Regions from separate parts of the Homo sapiens genome. Here region 2 is linked to region 1. Evidence: fine-mapped expression QTL. Tissue or cell type: whole blood. Region 1 holds a variant in brackets; the other region holds the start of a gene. All regions are shown on one strand. Distances are from middle to middle.

What was found. PIP is the estimated chance that this variant, and not a neighbour inherited with it, causes the effect.
Region 2: GGA1 starts here. The variant in region 1 is fine-mapped to the expression of GGA1 in whole blood (TOPMed, PIP 0.91).

The regions. Positions count from the first base shown.
Region 1 is chr22:37,627,215-37,635,264 of GRCh38, reverse strand. It overlaps GGA1 (golgi associated, gamma adaptin ear containing, ARF binding protein 1), which reads right to left. Exons shown (of 17, transcript NM_013365.5): 12 at 5,739-5,803; 13 at 5,095-5,267; 14 at 4,166-4,362; 15 at 3,100-3,269; 16 at 2,750-2,860; 17 at 1,701-2,664. The coding sequence ends at 2,554. Among named protein-coding and RNA genes, the nearest start is that of SH3BP1, 8.4 kb to the left of the region's middle. RefSeq lists enhancers at 838-927, 1,708-1,867, 1,088-1,961, 2,228-2,287, 2,468-2,527. The variant G/A (reference allele first, on the strand shown) is at 3,256.
Region 2 is chr22:37,604,779-37,612,831 of GRCh38, reverse strand. GGA1 (golgi associated, gamma adaptin ear containing, ARF binding protein 1) reads right to left here and starts at 3,998. Exons shown (of 17, transcript NM_013365.5): 1 at 3,929-3,998. The coding sequence starts at 3,971. RefSeq lists enhancers at 3,169-3,278, 2,993-3,614, 4,219-4,388, 4,539-4,618, a silencer at 3,609-4,058 and a cis regulatory region at 5,363-5,822.

The DNA.
Region 1 (8,050 bases):
ACAGATGCAGGGCTTCTGTGGTACCTTATGTCTTTGCTCTCAGGGTGCCACACTGGCTCCCAAGTCCTTGCCAGCTTGTGAACTCTTAGGACAGGGGCTGGCCCAGGGGCTGCTCAGGAAACACTGGCATGACTGACAGGATGGGTGGGTTAAGGACAAGGCAAGGGACAAGGTCCAAAGGCTGAAGGGACCCCACCTTCCCGTCCCCGGAATATCCTGGGTCACTCCAAAGCTGACAGCCTGGCTCCTTTGTCCAAGGACTCCTCAGAGGGACCTTATAGCTCATTGAGTCCCTCTCCCCTTTTCCAGAAAGGAAAGCATCTTCCTCAAAATCACACAGCAAGCCAGTGACCCAGCCAGAACCAGCCCCCAGACTCCCAGCTCACAGTCCCACCTGTTCCCCATGCCAACCTGTACTCCTCCCTGCCATGGCCAGTAATGAAGACTGTGCTGGAGGTGGGACTCTGGCACCCCAAGTGGATGCTGCAGGGGTTATGGTTTCATTTCAGGTAGAAGAAACTTCCAACCGGAGTTATCTTCAGGAGACATCACAAGTGTGGAGGCGAGTCCTGCAGGGTAGGGAAGGGGAACAGGAACGAGGCCACGTGGCTGGGACAGGGTGTCTGGAAGCCTCCAGGGGCCAGCCTCTGTCTGGAGGGCTGTGCCAGGGTGGGAGTCCCACTGTAGGGATCTGATAGGAGGCTCCCGCAGGGTGCAGCTAATGCCTCTTGTCCCCTCAGCAGTAAGGCGGACATGGAGGAGCTCTCAGCCTGCGCTTTCAGTGTGGGCCCAGCAGAGAGGGGCCCCTTGCTTGCTGATGAGTGTTAAAGAGCACACACGCTGGGATGCGGGTGTGCTGGGCAATTCTCCAGCATGTCACAACTATATCTAAGGAGAAGGGTTCAGCGGCCAAGTTCAGATTGGGAAACACTAGATTAGACAAAGTGAAAATGGCTTCTTAAATGAGGGACTTCCCAGGGTCTGTATGGGCTCATCTACTCAGGAGAAACCGTGCGCAGCCTCCCTGGACTCATCTGAGCAGGGAACACTTTCCTGCAGAGCCACACGCAGGGCTGGCCTCCCACACAACAGGGCCCATCTGCCTGGACCAGCGCCCCCTCGCTCCCAGCTGTGTGGCCTCGAAGCCACGCCCAAGCTTGGACCCCAGCCTCCTGGTTGGAGAAAACTGATAGCACTGTGTGGGGGAGAGCTGCCGCTGCGAGTGGCAGGGGCCCAGCTCAGGGTCCCTGGGTCTGCTCCCAAACAAACTGCGATTGGTGCTGGGCAAGGGAGTGATGTCTGGGGGGAGGGAGAAGCTGGGCTTGGACTTCCCTCTGGGGTGCTGCAGCATCGAGGTTGTGTGGAGGGCTGAGCACAGCAGGAGGAAGTCGTGAGCAGCCAGGGGCCTCCCCCTCGGTGTCTGTAGCAGCTGGGGCTCCTGCCAGGCCCTGGCGGTCGCCCACTTCCAGCTGGGACGGTCCTGGTCCGCCACAGCCCAGCGCCCTCTCTGGTGACTCAGCACTGGCCACAGGCCCCTTTGCAGGGCCTTTTCCGGTGCAGGGCCCGGGGGGTGGTGGGGAGGGGGCCCACGGCCTGACCTCCAAAGACGGAAGTGGAGAGGTCTACAGGGCAGCCCTAGGGAACATGGACTCAACCCCTCCCATCTCCCTCAACCTCCAAAGGGCCACGAGAGCAGCTGGTCCAGGAAAAACGACGTTTTATTTTCATAAATACTCCTGCTCTCACTCACACACTGACCCCACTTCTGACCACGGACAGATGGATGGACAGACGTAAGACACCCATAGGAGGCCCCAGCAGAGGCCAATGAATGAAGGAGACACACCGAGAACTCTAGGTGCCCCACAGCCCCTCGCTGGGGCCATGGGCCTCTGGCATTACCCTTGAGCCCCCACAGTCCCTCAGGGGGCCCAATGGCAAAGGGAAACCCCCAGGAGTACGGGCCAGGTGAGGTTCCCCCAGCCTGGCCCCCTGAGGCTGTGACCACAGGGCCAATCCGGAAGAAAAGCAGAGTCAAACCACACACCAGAGTGCAAATAGCTGGGGGTGTAGGCGTCACCCCCCAGTCACTGGGTTCCTATGGAGGAGGCCTAAGCTGGTCCCCAGCTCCAGCATGGCCCCCGAGTTATGGCTGGGCCTTCCCATAAGGCATAAGAGACAGGTGGGGAAGACCCCACCCCAGCTGGGGTTGGGGCTGGGCCTGAGGTCCTGGCCCTTCCCCAACAGCTGTGCTTCCTCCCCATGACCCAAGTTCTTCCAAGGCTACACAGCCCCTCCCTCTCCAGGTCCCGGTGATGGAGACCCCAGCGGCACAAACCCAGGCCCAGCCTCCTACTGGGTTTGGCTCAGCAGGGGCGGGGCCGGAGCAGGAGGGGGAAGAGTCACTTGAGGCCTACAGGGGTGTGGGGAGAAGCACCAGGCCTGGGGGTGAATGGCCATGGGCAACAAAGGGTGTCCTTGGCCACCAATGCCTCCCTCCAGGCTGGACAGTGACCGGTCCCTCTGCCCCTTCCTCTCCCCAGCCCCTCTGTTCTAGAGGCTACCCCAGGTTTCAGGTGGGGGGAACTGGTCCACATCCCCCATCTCGTTGTAGGTCTGGTCACCCATGGTGAAGGTGAGCTTGTAGCGGAGGCGAACCTTCTCCTGGGGAAGAGATGGCAAAGGCAGAGGGGTCAGAGGAGGAGAAGTGGCCGTCCCCACCCTGCAGCACTGCCTGGGGGCCCCTTACCTTCTGGGGGTTGGCAAGCAGCAGGACCTGGGTGATTGCTGAGGGGTGGACGATGGGGTTAAAAGCTGGCAGCTCCGTGCCCGAGGGTGGCTGCAGCTTCACCTTCATAACCTGTGGGCAGATGGCAGGATGGGCACAGCTAGCCCTGGCTGCTTGTCCTGCTCTGAGGAACCAGGCCCAGCCTGCCAGCTCCCCTCCGGGGATCCTGGGGCTCAGTCCTTCTGGTCCCTTCTACACCAACCACCCAGCAAGGGAGGGAGACCTGCCCCCTGACAGGTGGCTCCCCACCCAGCTCCATGTCACCCTGCCTTGAGAGGAGGGAGGCATGCCCTGTCCGACTGGCTTGTCACCTTGGGGACAGCTGACTGGAACACGATGTTGCGGATGGGCTGGGGGGCGGTGCTCAGCATGGAAACCACCACCACCAGCACGTCGGAGCGCCCTGGCAGTGGGTCCCGGGCAAAATGGAAGAGGATGCGGAAGCCGTGCTGGTCATACACAGTCAC[G/A]GGCAGGATGTTGCCTGTGGGAGAAGGTGGGAGGGCGATGGGACAGCTGAGCTGCAGCACATCCGCTCAGCCCCCAGCCCCCACCCGGCTGGCCTCAGGAGCTGGCTGCTGTACTGGCAACAAGAGCAAAGTCCTCCTTTGGGGCCTTACCTGGACCCTGGGTGGCAGTGCAGGCAGGGGCACAGAGCGGTGCCCAGAGAGGGCAGGTGAACCCCCAGTCTGATAGTGGAGGCAGGACACCCACCCCAGAGCCGAGTCACAGCCCAGCTTCCCCCGATGCTGTGTGGCTGCTGCCTGGAGTGCTGGGGTGAGGGACTTGGTGAGGGTGAGTCTCACGCTGTGTGACCTTGCGGCAGTCACTCCCCTTCTCTGAGCTCAGGGTTCTCCTACTGGTGAGAGGGGCAGCTCTGCCCACTGCTGGGAGACACTGTGGGGGTAGTGTCTTTGGTCACAGGGAGCTCATAGAGGGCAATGCTGAGGACCACCAGGCCTCATGTGTCTGCTTGGGGCCCGGGGCTGGGCCATGGTCCCCTTACTGCTCCTGGGCTGGAAAAACCCAGCCTTGGATCTGGGTCTTTATCATGGTTCAGTTCTGTAATCTGGGGGAGACCCCAAACCTCTCTGTGTCCTGGGCCCTGCCTTCCTGGGGATGGAAGGGGCCCAGAGCCTACTCCCTAGAGGTCTTCTTGCTTATATAAGCCTGGAGTTTGTACAGCAGTCCTCTGATTGCTCTGGGGCAGATAAGGAAACTGACTCCTGGGAAGGGGAGGGCCTTGTTCAGAGCTCCCCTCTGGTTGGCCAGTGGCAGAGCCAGGGGAGCCCTGCTTTCCCACTAGCTTCCCCAGACAGAGCTCCTGACAGGGCAGCAAGCTGACCCAACCCAGCCTGCACCTGCCCCAGCCCTACTCACTGGGTTTGATGGACTCCAGGGGCACAGTGATGCTGGCCAGTGAGAGCTCGGTTGGTACGGGCTGCTGCGGAGGCCTGGGGGGCTCTGGGGACACGGTGTGGAGAAGGCTGGTGGCGCTGGAGCTGGGGGAGCTGCAGCTGCTGCTCTTATTCTGCAGGTCCCGGAGTGTGAGCCGGGGGGTTGGCTGCTGCTTCTCCCTTAATCGGGGGACAGTGCATTAAGAAGTGATTCTTGGCCAGCGTGGTAGCTCACCCCTGTAATTCCAACACTTTGGGAGGCTGAGGCGGGCAGATCGCTTGAGCTCAGGAGTTTGAGACCAGCCTGGGCAACATGGCGAAACCCGGTCTGTATAAAAAATACAAAAAACTAGCTGGGCGTGGTAGCGCACACCTGTGGTCCCAGCTACTCAGGAGCCTGACGTAGGAGAATCGCTTGAGTTTGGGAGATGGAGGTTGCAGTGAGCCGAGATCATGCCACTGTACTCCAGCCTGGGTGACAGGGTGAGACTCCCTCTCAAAAAAAGAAAAAGTGATTCTTTGGTGATGGAGAGATCAGGGGCACAGGAAAGGCTGGCACGTGTGGCTATCTCTCTGGCCTTGGGTCTTACCTTTAGAAGGAGCAGCTCGTGTTCTCCCTCCACCCTGCACCCCACCTATTCACTCCAGCCCAGTGTCCTCCCCTCTGCCGGCCCTCTGGACCTTTCTCAAGGGAGCTGGGAACACCTGGGGGGAGGCCAGGCCAGTGGGCCCAGGTCTGCCTTGGGCACTGTTGTGTTTCCAGAGGCAGGTGCACTGCTTGGCATCTGCTGCTTACAAAACAAGACAGCAACGAGCCTCTCCCTGCTGGGCCTGGACAAGCCCAGGAGAAGTTGCTGGTTTGTGGGAACAGGGAGTGCTCCCCACCCCATGCCAGCCATGGTGGGCCCTCACCACCGCACTTGCTGGGATTCCGGGGGCAGCGACTGCTGCAGGAGGGTCTTCCCCAGGAGGTCTAGGTCGTCCAGACCGCTGCTTGCTGGCAGGGATGTCTGCGCTGGGGGTCGGCTTTCCATACTGGGGGCCTGGGCCAGAGCAGGGGCTGGGGGCTCAGTGGCATCCGACGACTGTGGGGAAAAGGATGCAGGTGGGGTGGGGCTGTCTAGAGAGGTGTCAGCATCACCTGATCCTGCCCTGAGGCTCAGTGTCCTCCTTGCAAATGACATCTGGGAAAGCAGCCACAGAGGTGGGGACCCCAGACCACCCATGTCCATGATGCAGGGTGGCTGGGTCTGGTTGGGGGTTCTACAATCCAGGGACCTCTGTCACCCTCAAGGGAAAGGAAGAGGGATTGCCCATCTCAATCCCAATCCCAAAGGCTGGGCTGCAGCCCCAAGGCTGAGACTTGGGGAAGATACAGCTGGAGGTAAGGGGAGGCCCTGTACCCTGGGTGGGTGTCTCCAGGCCCCTGGGCCACCCCCTGGCCCTGGGCTCTTGAGTAGAGCCCATCCATCCTTTTAGTTTCTCCAGGCCACTTGTCCCAGCTGCCCTGACCCTGGGACTGGGACAGGCCAGACTAGTTTGTGGTCCCCTCCTACCTGGAAGCTGTTCCATCCGGTACCATCCAGGCTTGGGCCTGAAGGGGGTGTGGGGTCACTGAGGCCTGAGGGGAAAGCAGGAGAGAGGTGAAGGAGCTGGGCTGACCCTGCAGAGGCCAGAGAGCCGAGGGGCCATGTGTGCTGGCATGGGGCTCCCTACCCCTTTCTGAGGCTCAGCACGGAGGGGAGAAACCCACATTTTCAGAGGGAACCAGCAGCAGAGCAGAACCAGTAACCAAGATCCCGGCAACCCCTTGTGCTGACCCCACACACGCTTCCCCTCTTCCTGGCCAGGCCACTCCAAAGCTCTGTGCACACAGACAATAGACATCAGGACTTTCATCTTCACTCGTCATCTGGCAGCAGAGAGCCTGCAGGGCTGGGCTGCAGGGAGAAGAGGTTCCTTTCCTCACGCATCCAGGCAAGGGGAGAGCAGCTCTGTGCCTGCCACTGGCCCACTCGAGGGACGCCTGCTGGGTGACTGTGGGCTAGGCACTGTGCTGGCTGAGCCACAGTGTCCCCAAGAATACGAGGACAGGGCTGGACTGGAGGCGACGCTGAAGGCCCTCTTGGCCCTGGCACATGCCAGTGAGGCTCACTGGTACTATGGAGGGCTGGGGATCCCTGTGGATGGCCCTAGAACTAGCTGCCGATGGGAAGGAGGCAGCAGGTCACCAGCCAGCCTGACCTCTGCCTGCCCTGGAATACTGTCAGCCAAGTTCACCCCAAATCTGACCTAGAGAAGATAAGGGATCTTGTTTCCAACAAATCCTGAAAAAGTGAGGTCCAAACCGAAGTGCTACCTGACAGGCAAAGGCAAGGGTACCAGGAAGCTGTGACAGTGGGTCCCTTCTAGATGCACTTCTTAGAGGCCAGAGATAAAGTGCACTGATGATGCCCTAGATGCTTCAGGCCCTTCAGATGCTGGTCTTGCTTAATCCTCAAACAACCTTCAAAGGTAGGGGTGAGCTTCTCAGCCCTCTTTTAGGGATAAGAAAATGGACTCAAAGTTGGTAAATAACCTGCCCGAGAACACACAGCTAGAAAGTGGCAGAGTCTGGACTCAGACAGAGCATGGCCTGACTGCCAGCATTTGAACACAACTCTGCCACTTGGCTGTGTGATATTGGGGGGTGACAGCCTCATCTGTAAAATGGAGACACCAGCCAGGTGCAGTGGCTAATGTCTGTAATCCCAGCTATTTGGGAGGCTGAAGCTGGGGTTTGAGATAAGCCCTGGCAGCATAGAGACTCTACCCCTAAAGAATAAAAGGAAAAAAAATTAGCCAATGCCTGTGGTCCCATCTACTTGGGAGGCTGAGATGGGAGGATTAGTTGAAGCCAGAAGTTTGAGACCAGCCTGAGCAATATAGTGAGACCCCCATCTCAAAACCAAAAAGAGGTGGGCGCAGTGGCTCATGCCTGTCATCCCAGCATTTTAGGAAGCTGGGGTGGGTGGATCACTTGAGGCCAGGAGTTCAATACCGGCCTGGCCAACACAGGTGAAACCGTGTGTCTACTAAAAATAAACTAATTAACCGGGTGTGGTGGCACACACCTGTAGTCCCAACTACTCAGGAGCCTGAGATGGGAGGATCACTTGAGACGGGGGAGGTTAAGGCTGCCTGAACACCCTCCTTGAGGGACAGGAACCTGTCTCCCACCCCTGCCGTGAAGAGTGAGGACCAGCCCCCTGTGTGGCCCCAGGGCCTCCTCCATTCCCCAGGCCCAGGCTGCAGGCTGCCCTGGCACTTCCGGCTCCTGTGCCCCCATGCTTTGCCTCTGAGAGGAAAACAGAAGGAAGCTGGTGGCTCAGAACTATGCCAGTGCAGTGCGGGGACAGGAAGTGCGGCTGCATCTCGCTTCTCTTGTGGAGGTGGTGCTGCAGCTGCTGGCTGGGGGCTGGTGGCCCTGCAGTACTTCCCCACCCACTGCCCCTCAGGTAGCTGCCACCCAGGGCTGGCTCCACAGGGGAAGATAAACCTTGTATGAACGTTCCTGTCCCTTGACCGTCCTTTACTTCTCTGTAGAATGGGGTAAAGGTCCTCTCCCTGCGGTCACCCTTGGCTCTGAATGAAGAGGGGGCGGCTGCATGGGGCTCGTAAGCAGCTTCAGGGAGGGTGCTGGCTGCTGGGTTCACAAAGGGAGCTCACAACTGGGCCTCCTTTCCCCTCAGCTCTCCTTCCCCTTCAGCTCTCCCTCCACACTCCGGGTCCTCATTTCCTTTTCCTTGCTTATGAACAACGAGTCAGAGCAGCCCAGCTGCTCAGAGTGTGGCTTCAGGATCAGAGCCCAGCTCAAGTCCTAGAGCCC
Region 2 (8,053 bases), 22 kb after region 1:
GAACCTCCATTTCCCCATCTTGTAAAGCTGGAATGAAATATGGATTTTTTTTTTTTTTTGAGACGAGTCTCACGCTGTTGCCCAGGCTGGAGTGCAGTGGCACGATCTCGGCTCACTGCAAGCTCCGCCTCCCAGGTTCATGCCATTCTCCTTCCTCAGCCTCCCGAGTAGCTGGGACTACAGGCACCCGCCACCACGCCCGGCTAATTTTTTTTTGTATTTTTAGTAGAGACAGGGTTTCACCATGTTAGCCAGGATGGTCTCAATCTCCTGACCTTGTGATCCGCCCACCTTGGCCTCCCAAAGTGCTGGGATTACAGGTGTGAGCCACCGTGCCCGGCTGTATTTTTTTTTTTTTTTGAGACGGAGTCTCGCTCTATCGCCCAGGCTGGAGTGCAGTGGTGTGATCTCGGCTGACTGCAAACTCTGCCTCCCAGGTTCACGCCATTCTCCTGCCTCAGCCTCCCGAGTAGCTGGGACTACAGGTGCCCGCCACCACGCCCGGCTAATTTTTTTTTTTTTTGTATTTTTAGTAGAGACGGGGTTTCACTGTGTTAGCCAGGATGGTCTTGATCTCCTAACCTCGTGATCCACCTGCCTCGGCCTCCCAAAGTACTGGAATTACAGGTGTGAGCCACTGCGTCCGGCCTGTATTTTTTTATTTTTATTTTTTTTTGAGAAAGAGTCTTGCTTTGTTGCCCAGGCTGGAGTGCAGTGGCGAGATCTCGGCTCACTGCAATCTCAGCTTCCTGGGTTCAAACGATTCTCCTGCTTCAGCCTCCTGAGAGTAGCTGGGATCACAGGCGTCCACCACCATGCCCAGCTAATTTTTTTGTATTTTTGGTAGAGATGGAATTTCACCATGTTGGTCAGGCTGGTCTCAAACTCCTGACCTCAAATGATCCACCCACCTCGGCCACCCAAAGTGCTGGGATTACAGGCATGAGCCACTGTGCCTGACCAAAATATTGATTTTGGATGACAAAATACTTTTTGCATGGGAAGGCCATGGCGGCAGCCAGAGCTCGATCTTCATTTCTCCACAGCCCACCTCTAAGGACCACCCCTTCCCAGCCAGTTCTGCCCACGCCTGAGCACCGAGCTGAGGGTGTGGAAGGACACAGCCCAGGAGGTAGAACAGAGAAGGATCTGTGGACAGGAGGCTGGGGACTGACCCAGCATGTGGCGCCTGCCCTGGGCCATATGTTATGGCAGGGGGCCCAAAGCCCTGGAATCCCAGTGGCTGGCCGCCATTCATCCAACTCAGATTTAAGTATTCTGGGTGCTGGGGCTCCAGCAGTGAACAGACAAAATCCCTGCCCTCCTCAAGTTCACTGCCCAGCAAGAGAAACAATGAATACTCAGATTAACAAACCCCGTGTACTGCAGACTGTTGCAAAATGTTACAGAGCAAAGCATAGCAAGGAGAAGTGCAGACAGCCTGGGAGGTGGGGGCTGCTCTCTGGGAGGGCTTTCGGAGGGCTCTGGAGCCCTCGGGAGCTGCTCTCTGGGAGGGCTCTCAGAGCTGAGCTGAGATCGGAAGGACGAATGTTCTCTCTGGATCTAGATCTCTGTCCCAGGAGCTCCACAAGACCCTCTAGTCCCTCAGAAAAATGAAGCCCCTGTTGACCTCCTGGGGATACCAGGAATATGACCCTCCCCAACCCAGGGGTAAGGGTAACTGTCTACTCTGCCTCCGAGTCCCCAAACAAAGGCTGGGGAACATCAGTCTAAAGTTAGAGAATCACTGCCCATTCAATGACACCCAGCCAGAAGACCCTAAAACAGGAAGTCCCTTAAAGTGTCAAAGACACGTGAGTTGGAGTGAGGTCAGAGAAGCTGATTCTGGACTGCTCCTGGGTCAGACGCCAGTGAAGAGGAAGCGCTGGCATCATGAGACATCATCTTTCTCCCCCTGCCTCTGGCTGAAAGCCAGGGCCTCCAGATCCAAGGAGATCTGACTGACCTCCTTGGCCCATGGCCCCTGACCCTCAGCCCTCTTAATTCTACCTGAGGGGAGTACCCTCCCTAGCAGGCAGTTGGGGAGAACACCTAGAGAGGGAGGGAGGTGTTTCACAACAGGGTAAGACTCCACCCTGCCACTCTATAGTGCTGACAATAACATCATTTACCTCACTAGGCCGGGCGCGGTGGCTCACGCCTGTAATCCCAACACTTTGAGAGGCCGACGTGGGCGGATGAGTGGCTAACGCCTGTAATCCCAACACTTTGAGAGGCCTATATAGGCGGATCACCTGAGGTCAGGAGTTCGAGATCAGCCTGGCCAACATGGTGAAAGCCCACCTGTACTAAAAATACAAAAATAGCTGGGCGTGGTGGCGCACCTGTAATTCCAGCTACTCGGGAGGCTGAGACAGGAGAATCACTTGAACCCGGGAGGTGGAGGTTGCAGAGAGCTGAGATTGTGCCACTGCACTCCAGCCTGGGTGACAAGAGTGAAAACCCGTCTCAAAAAAAAAAAGAAGAAGCTATCCTTTACCTCCAGCCTCCACAAGGGAAGAGGAAAGATCTTACAATTCTGCTAGGACACAAAGGGGGAAGGAAAGGAGAAAATCCCAGCCCCAGTGTGTCAGGGCCCAGCCAAACCCAGGTATCTCTAACTTCTGCCTGGTTTTAGACTCTCTGGACTCTCAGAAAACCCCCACTGTTTCTAAACCTGAGAATGTTTTGTATGACCCACAGCTCAAGACCTGTGTCTGAGATCAGTTAGCCAGGGGCCCACCCATCCCCCCAGCCCAGTTGCTGCTGAGACCCAGGCGGACACTTCCGGCGTTCACAACGGTCAAGGGCTGCTGAGTGCCCCTTTTCCACCCCCTGCCCCTCTGGTGGCTAGGATGACTCTGAAACATCCCTAGAGGTTTGGTTCTGGGGCCAACCTCATGGTTCAACTCTGCTCAAGCCTGGCTTAAAAGGGGCCGGCCATGACCCCAAACCACGCTAGACAGTTGCCGGTGTGCCCGGGTCCAAGAGGGTTCCCTGAGGCCCTGGCAACGACGGGGTCCCAACAGCAGTTAAAGCCTTGGGAGAGAACCCTCACTAGACCAGGGAGAAGCCAGCCACGGCTTTCAGAGGCAGAGTCCAGGAGCGGGGCTGTGAGAGCAGGGGATCATCAGGGCTGTGGGTTAAGGAGCTCAGGTGGAGGGTTTGCGGGCTAGGAAGCCTAAGCAATAGGAAGCTACGTCTGAGGAGAAACAAGAAAAAAAGGGGTGTAGAAGCCTTTGAAGGAAGTTCAGCAAGAGCTGGGAAAGGCATCTTGGAGACTGAGGGGTTAGGCTGAAGGGAGTGACAGGGAGCTTGGAATTATTAATACTTCTGGAGTCTAAGACTCTCCCAAGCCTGTAGGGTGCGGGGGTTTCTCACTATGTGGCTAGAGACTAGGAGCGGCGGGAGGAATCAAATGGGGCAGTGGGTCCTCCCTTCCAGGACGGGGTAATGAGCAAATGTGACTACTTGCGGGCTCCAGGAACGCCATGCAGGGCCAGAGAGTGGAGGATTCGGGGCCTGAAAATAGTAGGGTCCCTCCCTCCCGGGTGTGAGATGCAACCCCGGGGAACCGCTCGCGTGCTCCTTCCCCGGGCCGCTACTCCGTGAAGCAATGTGAGCCTTGGGGGTTGGAGGCTGCTCTCTCCGTCCCGGGGGTTCCCGGCGCAGCTCACTCGCCGTCCCAGGGGTCATGGCCCAGGGATCCGACAGGTGGGCGGCGCCCGCTCCCACCGCTGGACCGCGCCGGGGCCGGGGTCCTCCATCGCTCCAGGGTCTGAGGGGCCGACTGAGGACACCGCCCCTCCCGGGCCGGGGGCGGGGCGTGAGGAGGGGGCGACCCGTACCCCGCCCCCGCCGGGAAGGGGCCCGCCTCGTGCCCCCGGTTCCGGTTCCGGTCCGGCCCGCGCCCCTCCCGGACACTCACTGATTCGCGCCTCCAGAGTCTCCGGCTCCATCGCGGGCTCCATCCGCCACCGGCCCCCAGCCTCGGCACCGCCCCCCCGCCCCCCGCAGCTCTCGCGGGACCTCCTGGGCACCGCCCTCTGCCGATTAAAGGGGCAACGTCCGAACGGGCGCGCTCGGCACCATAGAGAGGCCAACGAGCTCGCCTAGAGCGTCACCTACTCGCCCAACCCCACCCCCACGCGGCGTCTACGTCGCAGCTGGGACCGGCCGCCTGCTTTTCCGTTCCCGGCGCTCAGGCGGGAGAGGAAGTGGAGATACTGCAGGCTAAGGGCAGCACCATGGAAACCCCAAGGGACGCTCTAACTCGTTCTGCGTCACGGAGATGTCTGTGACCGCCTCCGGAAGAATTCTCTGCGGGCATGTTGCTGAGGGGCTCTGAGGCCACTTCCGGAGCCCTGAGCGGGTACTTCCGCTTAGAGTCGAACGTGGGAGAGTCCCTTAAAAGGGCGATAAGCTACATCCTCATGTACCTTGGCCGCTGTGAAAATGACGAAAATAAATCAGTTTCTTGAGTGCTTACAGTATTCTGGGCATTGTCCTAAGCACTATTTGTAATTAATCCATTTAGTTCTGACTCCTTACAACAAACCCACCAGATAATTAGTCGGCCTGAGGCCGCACAAGTAGCAGAGCTTGAACCCTGTGCCGTCTCCTCCATTCATCCAGCCAACGTTTAATGAACTCTTTGTATTTGCTTTGCTCTGTGATGGGCACAGAAGGAGATAGACAAGGCCAGATATTTATTACAGTGTGATAGGGGAAGCCCACGGGGTAGTGGGAACAAAGGAGGGGGCTCCTCCCCCAAACTGGGGTGGGGTGGGTGGGGGTGTTGTCAGGGGAGGGGTCGTGTCAGGGGAGGGGTCGTGTCAGGGGAGGTTTCAAGAGAAAGTGATACTGTACTTCGCTCAAAGACAGTCGGATTTCTCCACGTAGAGCTGGTGCGAAAAGATATTCAGGGAGAAAAAGTAGGATGAAGGCCGAGGAGGGCGGATCACGAGGTCAGGAGATCGAAACCATCCTAACACGGTGAAACCCCGTCTCTACTAAAAAAAAAAAAAAAAAAAAATTATCTGGGCGCGCCTTTAGTGCCAGCTACTTAGAAGGCTGAGGCAGAAGAATCGCTTGAACCCGGGAGGTGAAGGTTGCAGTGAGCCGAGATTGCGTCACTGCACTCCAGCCTGGGCGGCATAGCGAGACTCAGTCTCAAAAAAAAAAAAAAAAAAAAAAGTAGGATGAGTCCAGGGAGTTGGAAGTATTTCAATACGGCTCCCAGATATCTGCAAATAGATATCTATTTGCAGGAGATATCTTGGAATTAGGCTGGGGCAAGATCACCCAGGTCCCATGTTTTGCTGCCCTTTTTTTTTTTTTTCCCTGTAAGCAACGTTGGAGGTGTCGTTACAGTTTTACGGATGGTAGCAAAGTCAGGCTTTTGTTTTAGAAGGGTCCAGCAGTGGGAGGAAGATAGCAGTGGGAGCCAGACTGGAATCGGGGAGGACAGTACGAACAGACTTCCTAAGCTCGGCGCCTTTTCTCCTGTATCTCCCTCCATCAAAGACCTCCCTCACCTTGTGGCGTCACGACCTGGCGGCGCCTGGTCCCCGACTCACCTGGGTCCATTGCACTCTGTCGCCCCCTCGCGGCCGGCTGGGAAACCGGCCCGTGGCGACCTCTCCAGCGGTCCTGTGCCTGGGAGGGTTAAAGCTCCACTGAGACTAGGGAATCTGGCGAATCCGGTTCTGCCTTGGCGACTGACCTCGATTCACCTTGCGGAACCGCAGTAACCTCATCCAGGAGATGAGGGGGCTGTGCTGGGTCAGTTTTTCCCCTAAACTCAACCATTCAGCGACTGGGATGCTTTTCTAAATTCTCTCCCAAAGGCCATTGAGATTATACAGGGAAGTGATATGTATGTTTATTGCATTCCTCAACAAAAGCTGTAACGTAGTGTATACTTATAGCTTTTTGTTTATGTCTTTTACTACTGAAATGAATTATATATATTTTTTTATTTTATTTTATTTTTGAGACGGAGTCTCTCTCTGTCGCCCAGGCCGGAGTGCAGTGACGCGATCTCAGCTCACCACAACCTCTGCCTCCCGGGTTCAAGTGATTTTCCTCCCTCACCCTCCCGAGTAGCTGGGATTACCGGCGCCTGCCACCACGCCCGGCTAATTTTTTCATATTTTTAGTAGAGACGGGGTTTCACCATGTTGGCCAGGCTGGTCTCGAACTCTGGACCTCAAGTAATCCACCCGCCTGAGCCTCCCAAAGTGCTGGGATTACAGGTATGAACCACTGCGCCCAGCCTATTATATTTATTTTTGAGACAGAGTTTTACTCTGTCGCCCAGGCTAGAGTGCAGTGGCACGATCTCAGCTCACTGCAACCTCTGCTTCCTGGGTTCAAGCGATTCCCCTGCCTCAGCCTCCTGAGTTGCTGGGATTACAGGCATGCGCCATCATGCCTGGCTAATTTTTGTATTTTTAGTAGAGACAGGGTTTCGCCATGTTGGCCAGGCGGGTCTCGAACCCCTGACCTCAGGTGATCCACCTGCCTTGACCACCCAAAGTGTTTGGATTACAGGCGTGAGCCACCACGCCCAGCCTGAGATGAATTATTACTGAAATAAAACTCACATCGCATTTACTGCATTCATTTAGGGACATGTCTGTGCTGTCAGGAGTCACTTTTAAAGACAAAATAGATTTGATTTAGGTGCAAATTCTGACTTCACTGCTTTCTGGATGATCTTGAACAAGTGTGTCTGCAAAATTAATCCCCTACCACATGTTCCCTACCACCTTTTCTGCTGAACTTTTCTCCTTAGCACTTATCTCCACTACATATTTCATTTCTTTGTTGTGTTTTGTGTCTCTCTCCCCCACCAGAATGTAAGCTCCACCACGGCAATGGATTTTATTTAGTTACTTCACTAATAATATATCCCCAAGCCCTAAAACAGTAACTGTTACACAATAAGTATTCAATAAATATGCATCAAATAAATGAATGAATATGCCCAACATTGCACAGTGAGTATGGGGGTTTGGAGAGGCGAGCCAGGCTGTGCTTGTAACAAAGGCTCTAGGCTGTCCCTCTGAGTTCTGGGGAGCAGGGCGTGATAAGGTAGACTCAGGAGCTGTGTCTATGCGTGAAGGGCCTGGCCCAAACTGGGGATCAGGGTAGGAGGTACGGTAGGAGGAACCTAAAGATGGTGAAAGGAAGGAGGACCAACACGGGAAACTTGGAGGAAATGCCTGTGGCAGCCGTTCCCACCCATTCCCCACCATGAGCAAATGTGTTGCTTTGAGAGACTTGAGGAACCCCTGAGAAGGGCAGGTAAAGCTCAGCTATAATCACCTAAGCCATGCCGACCTCTAAGGATTTAACACCTCAGCTCCTTCCTAAGAAAACCCCTGGAACACTGGAAACGTTGGTGAGGGAGGGCTGGGGCGAGGGAATAGGAGCTGGGGAGATGGGCATCCTTGCAAACTTGGAGGAGAGATATGGGGGAGGACATGCAATTCTTTCTTGGAGGAGGATTGTAGAAGGTTCAGGAAACAAACTGAGGCGTGGCCCCAGCCTCAGCCCCTGTGACTCCAGTCAGATCCTGCATGTCCCTTCCGGGCATGGGAACCTCAGGGGAGGGGGGCACAGAGGACCATGGTTGTCATTGTCGCCTTTAATATTCCCACAGACCTCAGAGTTGAATTCTATTCTTCCTGTTTTACAGATGAGAAATCTGAGACTCTGAGCAAGGATGTGGTTGGCCAAGGCCCCCACGTGTCTCCATCACAAGAGCCCACATCAGAGCAAGTCCCTGCCTTCAAAGGATGGAAAGCACAGAAGCAGGCTGGGCGGGGTGGCTCAAGCCTACAATCCCAGCATTTTGGGAGGCCAAGACGGGTAGATCACTTGAGGTCAGGAGTTTGAGACCAGCCTGCTCAACATGGTGAAACCCCATCTCTACTAAAAATACAAAAATTAGCCAGGTGTGGTGGTATGCACCTGTAATCCCAGATACTTGCGAAGCTGAGGCACAAGAATTCCTTGAACCTGGGAGGTTGCAGTGAGCTGAGAT